Linked DNA regions of Homo sapiens: region 2 is linked to region 1. Evidence: fine-mapped expression QTL. A gene starts in region 1. The other region holds a variant in brackets. All regions are shown on one strand. Distances are between the middles of the regions.

What was found. PIP is the estimated chance that this variant, and not a neighbour inherited with it, causes the effect. A credible set is the group of variants that fine-mapping cannot tell apart.
Region 2: its variant is the best candidate, but not a certain one, in a credible set for the expression of FKBP1B in whole blood (TOPMed, PIP 0.82).

The regions. Positions count from the first base shown.
Region 1 is chr2:24,048,193-24,051,093 of GRCh38, forward strand. It overlaps FKBP1B (FKBP prolyl isomerase 1B), which reads left to right and starts at 1,549. Exons shown (of 4, transcript NM_004116.5): 1 at 1,549-1,694. The coding sequence starts at 1,658. RefSeq lists a silencer at 1,411-1,710.
Region 2 is chr2:23,693,051-23,695,951 of GRCh38, forward strand. It overlaps KLHL29 (kelch like family member 29), which reads left to right. Exons shown (of 14, transcript NM_052920.2): 8 at 219-478; 9 at 2,573-2,771; 10 at 2,901. It also overlaps a transcript of ATAD2B not described here. Among named protein-coding and RNA genes, the nearest start is that of ATAD2B, 230 kb to the right of the region's middle. The variant T/C (reference allele first, on the strand shown) is at 1,801.

The DNA of each region.
Region 1 (2,901 bases):
AAATAAAGATGGCATGCCTGTAATCCCAGCACTTTGGGAGGCTGAGGCGGGCGGATAACCTGAGGTCGGGAGTTCGAGACCAGCCTGGCCAACATGGTGAAACCCTGTCTCTACTAAAAATTTAAAAATTAGCCGAACGCTGGTGTCTCACGCCTGTAATCCCAGCTACTTGGGAGACTGAGGCACGAGAATCGCTTGAACCTGGGAGGCGGAGGTTGCAGTGAGCCGAGATTGTGCCACTGCACTCCATCCTGGCGACAGAGTGAAGATTCTGTCTCAAAAAAAAAAAAAAAAAAAAGGAGAGAGAGAGAGACGGGATCTCGCTATGTTACCCAGGCTGGTCTTGAACTTCTAGGCTCAAGCAATCCTCCTGCCTCGGTCTCCTACAGTGTTGAGATTACAGGTGTGAGCCATTGTTCCAAAAATTGATATACTTGGCCTCACATCAATTTTTGGAACAATGCAGGTAATAATGAGGGGGAAAAAATTTTAAAAGTCCCAATTACCCTTTAAACAAATATTACCTCCTCCAAAAAATATTTTTCTAGATTCCTGAATGTATTTTTTGGTGGAGGAGGAACTCAAAGTAGAATTCATTTACATATTCATTCATTCATTCCACAGCACTAATCACTCCATGCAGTAACTGTGTGTCCCCGTCCCTCTCAGACTTAGTACCTGGAAGACAGCCAACCTGTCTTAATTCTATTGGTATCCCCAGGGCGCATTTCTTTGCCTTGAAAATTGAGTACCCAATAAATGTGCGTCGAGCAGAACTACACGAGATGGAGAACAGGGGTTTAGGGGTATGGGGGAGAGTCAGCAATTACTGGTGTCCTCCCTCCCTCCCCCAGCTCTGCTCCTACAGATCCAGGACGCCTAGCGAGGGTAGGAACCTCTTCTGTGCTTCCGCAACGCTCTGAACTGCACGGCACTGAGCGCATCTAATTAAAGTGATGGTTTCATTAGATAGCAACACAGCGAGACCCCGTTTCTACAAAAAATAAAAATAAAAAATAAAAGATTAGCTGGGCGTGGTTGCTCGCGCCTCTAGTCCCAGCTACTTGGGTGGAGGCTGAGGAAGAAGGATCGCTTGAGCCTAAGAGTTCGAGGTTGCTGTGAGCTATGATCGCGCCACTGGACTCCAGCCTGGGCGACAGAGCAAGATCCTCTGTCTAAAATAAAAATAAAAATAAAATGATGGTTTAATCGCCGGCCTTTGCCCCTTCTGCCCCCCACCCCCCACAAGTCTGTAGGACTGGGTTGACTTCCCAGAGCTTACTACAGATTAGATGCTAAATAAATGTCTATTGGACGGATGCGCGAATGAATGGATGGATGGAGGATGTGGTTGTGCTTACCACGCTCCCTGGTCAGTGGGTTAATGTCGTCAGGCGGGGCCAGGCTCGCTAACAGCCGGGCGGGGTCCCTTCCCCCGGGCCCCGCCCCGGCCGACCCCACCTTTCCGCGCGGCTCCGCCCCGCCGCCCCCTTGCCAGTGGCCCCTCCCCGCGCAGGTCCCGACTCCAGCCGCACCTCCTCCGGCTCTGCAGTGGCGGCGAGGAGGCGAGCCGGAGCGACGGCGGGGCTGGGGCCGGAGCCGAGCCGGGGTCGGGCAGCAGCAGGGACCCCCCAGAGGCGGGGCCTGTGGGACCGCTATGGGCGTGGAGATCGAGACCATCTCCCCCGGAGACGGTACCGGGCTCCCTCCGGAGCCAGGGGAGGGGAGGGGTCCCGGGGCGGAGCCCGGAGGGCGGGGGTCTGATTCGGAGGTGGCGTGGAGGGTGCTGAAGGGTCGGGGGGCTGGATGGGGAAGGCAGGCGGAGACGCCGGACGGGATTCTTGGGGGTCTAGGAGACCATCCTCCGCCATCCTCTTCCGCGCTCACCTAGGGGAATGTAGGCGGCAGCTCGGAGGCGGGGGTCTGCGGCCCGGAGGCGGGGGTCTGCGGCCCGCCACCGCCCCGGGCTTCTCCTGTCGCGGCTGCAGTCGTTCGGTTATCCGCTGCTGCTGATACCCCAGCCTGGGTTTCGGCTTCGCTTTCCCTGCCCTACTCGGCGAGCTCTGGAAAGCAGGACCTGCTCTCGGATACCCGCTGCTCGGGGACCTCCTCCTAGCGCGTCCCCCGCCGGGCCTCCCCTCGGTCGCTTCCCTGCGGGCCGGGCTGTGAGCGGCTGTGGGGACAGACCCAGGCTGGGGAAGGGGGAAGCGCTCCCTTGCCCGCTTCCGGATCTCGCTTTATCCTGCCGCCGCTTTCAGACTCCCTGGCCACCCTGTCCACTCCCATGGCCTCCACATTGAAGCTTCTAAGCCCAGCCCTGCGACCTACGGCCGAACCTCTCCCTGGACGTCCCAGGGTGCTCCCTGGTCAGCAAGTCCAAAACAGAACTCTCGCTTCCCACCTTCTCTCCTAAGTGATCCTCTTTATCCCCCTTCCGTGTCTCACTTTCCCAAGTCCTTGTATTACTGGGTCTGGGTGTGCAAGGAATAGCCATTTCTTTATTTCTTGAAATTTAATTAATACCAAAGCCCCCATTGTCTGCAGGGTTTGATGGGCAAACTTCATATCAGATATTATTAATATGAACAGCTCCCCTCCCCAGGAAATTGGATAACTTCTTGGCTCCAGGCCATCTTCCTTGTCCAATCCCAGCCACTACTTCAGATATCCCCTGGAGTACAGGCTTCTTTGCCCACGCAGGAAACATTGCTGCTGGGTCCCAGAAAGCATCTCCCTGAGGCCTTTTCATCCCTCAGCAGCCCCTGAGCTAATCTCCCCATCTTCAGTCTCTCCTCCCTGCTTTCAATCTCGTCCCCAATCTCATATTCACTCCCTTTCTATATCATAGCCTGAAGACTCTTCTTAAAATGCAGTGGCTCACGCCTGTAATCCCAGCACTTT
Region 2 (2,901 bases), 360 kb before region 1:
GGCCCCTGGGAGTCAGCATGAAATGGGGTAGGGGAGAACCCAGGAGAAGGATCGAAGCCTCCAGACACCCAGGAAGGGGGCCTGCAGGGACTCTGGACACTGCAGTCAGGGTCCCCCGGGATGTGGGTTCAGAGAAGGATCTAGGGTGACAGCAATGGGAACAGGTGGCAACTGCTTCCCGGGCCTTTGGGTCAGTGGTCCTGCGCTGTCGCCCCCAGAGAAGCAGCTGACGGCCAGCAACTGCCTGGGCGTGCTGGCCATGGCCGAGGCCATGCAGTGCAGCGAGCTCTACCACATGGCCAAGGCCTTCGCGCTGCAGATCTTCCCCGAGGTGGCCGCCCAGGAGGAGATCCTCAGCATCTCCAAGGACGACTTCATCGCCTACGTCTCCAACGACAGCCTCAACACCAAGGCTGAGGAGCTGGTGTACGAGACAGTCATCAAGTGGATCAAGAAGGACCCCGCGACACGCACACAGGTGGGGCCTGCCCTGTCCCCCGCCCCTTCTCTCTGGGTTTGGGGTCCCCCTGCGGCAATGGGGTCTGCAGCAAGGAGGAAGGAAGTGAACCTTCCTTGTCCTGCTCTCCCTAAGTGGCAGAGAGGTGAAGGGCGGGCAGAGAGGTGAGAAACCAGTCACCAAAGGATCCTCAAGGGCTGGCATTCCACCCCAAAGGAGACCCAAGTCGGCCAAGAGCCGCAGCACCTGCACTCTGCAGGGAGAAGTGGGTCCCTGAGCCAGGGGGCTCTGGGGCTCCCAGGAACACGGACCCAGCTGGAGGAGCCCATACCTGCTCTGATTGTTGAGGGGATGGACAGCCCGCAATGGACCAAATGGAAACCCCTGCATGCAGGAAGAGGGAGAGTGAGGTCCTGAGGGGACTGTGTTGGGTAAACAGAGGATACAGAGAGGGCTCCCGCCCCAGATCTCGCCATTGAGCCCCAGAGAAAGGGGTCCTCAGATCAGGTGGGAGGCAGGGTTTCTTTTCAGAGGTAGGAAGTTAGATGGGGCAGCTAATAACAGTGACAGCCACAAGTCCCTATGACTCCCAGATCTGTGTCTCAGGCTGAAACCCTTTCCTGAGCTCCAGACCCCTCTGCTCAGTGGCCTTCTGGGCCTCTCCAGCAGAATGTCCTGCAGATCCGTCTAATTCACCAAGCCGAAAGCCTACACCTCTTCCTGTTCCTTATTTCAGCGATGCCTGGTCCCCAGAACTGAAGCTTAGCTTCCTCCCACTTCTCCCATAGCCATTTCGCTACACGCGCTCATTCCTGCCTCCTTCCTCCCCTTTAAGTGGATCGACTTCCCTCTCCCCATCGAGACCTTCCTCCTCTCGCCAGGATTACTGCAGCACCTCCTAAGTGGTTTCCTTGCCTCTGTCTTGCTCCCTCCAAATCCATTTTCCACCCTCCAGCCTGAGCGGTCTCTCTAAAAGCACACTGAACATCTCATCCATCCACTCAAACCCCTCCTCAGTTGCCTCGTCGACTCCACAGGGGAAACTGTGCAGTCCTTGTTGAGCATGAGCATGAGCTGGCCTCCCCAGCCTCTCTCCTCTCACTTCTCCCTGTCTCCCTAAACGCCTCCTCAACAAAATCCTGTTACATCTCGTAAGAATAAACCCCAGACAATTCTCCAGACACACCATTCTCTTTCACTCTCTGACGCCTCTACACGGGCTTCGAATGTCCACCCTCCCATCCACCTTGTGCCTGGCAGAAGTCTGCCCATTTTGTATACCCCATCCAGATGCCATTCCCTCTGCAAAACCTCTTACTCCTGCACCCACTACAAACCCTCAC[T/C]AGACACTCCTCTTGCCCCTCGTGAATTTTTCATAGCAGATCCCCTCCCATTAAACTGTGTACCCCTTGAGGTCTGAAACTGGGTCACAGTGGTCTCTGCACCCCCAGTGATGAGCGTCATGCCTGGCCTATGGTGGTCTCGTTACTCATGGGATGAAACGAAAGTAGAGTGATGAGCAGAGTTTGTTAGGAGGGGAGATTCAAGGGAGCCTGTAAAACCACCTCAGTGCAGGGTGACAGTTTGAGGCCGTGGGACATGGGACACCACTGAAAGTTTTCGGTGCTGGAGAGACACAGGCTCCCACGGCTGAGACTTACAAGCTCAATAGTCGCCATCTCCTTGAAGCTTTCCTGGGTCCTCCCACCTGTTCCTGAGTCCTTGTCACACTCACAGCTCTTTAATAATCGCGTCTTCCTCATTTTAACCCCTCGCCCCTGCCCCCAGTGGCCTGATCTGCAGCAGGGGTCCACAGCCCCAGGTGGAGTGAGAGAATGGGGTGCTGGGGGGATGAACACATGCTCCCACTCCTGCAGGGCTGGCTGCAGCCTGCCAGCCTCCCCTCCGCACCCCTGCGCTCCCGGCCCTCCCCTCCACACCTCCAGCTGACTAGACTTCCCTTCACCTCTGTCTAGGCTAGCAGAGTATCTACACTCCCAAGCCTAACACAGCCTGGAATTATCCATTCTTGTGCAGCCCCACACCATTTCTTTCCGTCCGGGAGGTGGCTCTCTCTTGCTAGTCTAAGAAGATTCTGTCTCCTGTACCCTGCAGTACGCGGCTGAGCTCCTGGCCGTGGTCCGCCTCCCCTTCATCCACCCCAGCTACCTGCTCAATGTGGTTGACAATGAAGAGCTGATCAAGTCATCAGAAGCCTGCCGGGACCTGGTGAACGAGGCCAAACGCTACCATATGCTGCCCCACGCCCGCCAGGAGATGCAGACGCCCCGAACCCGGCCGCGCCTCTCTGCAGGTATGAAGGGGCACGCCCCGAACCTCCCAAGAAGCAGTGTCTTGGGCTCAGTGGTTCCAGTGAGGTGCCAGGCACAGATGCCGACAGTCTTAGAGTGTGTCCCAAGGGCGCCCATCCATGTCCCTGCAGG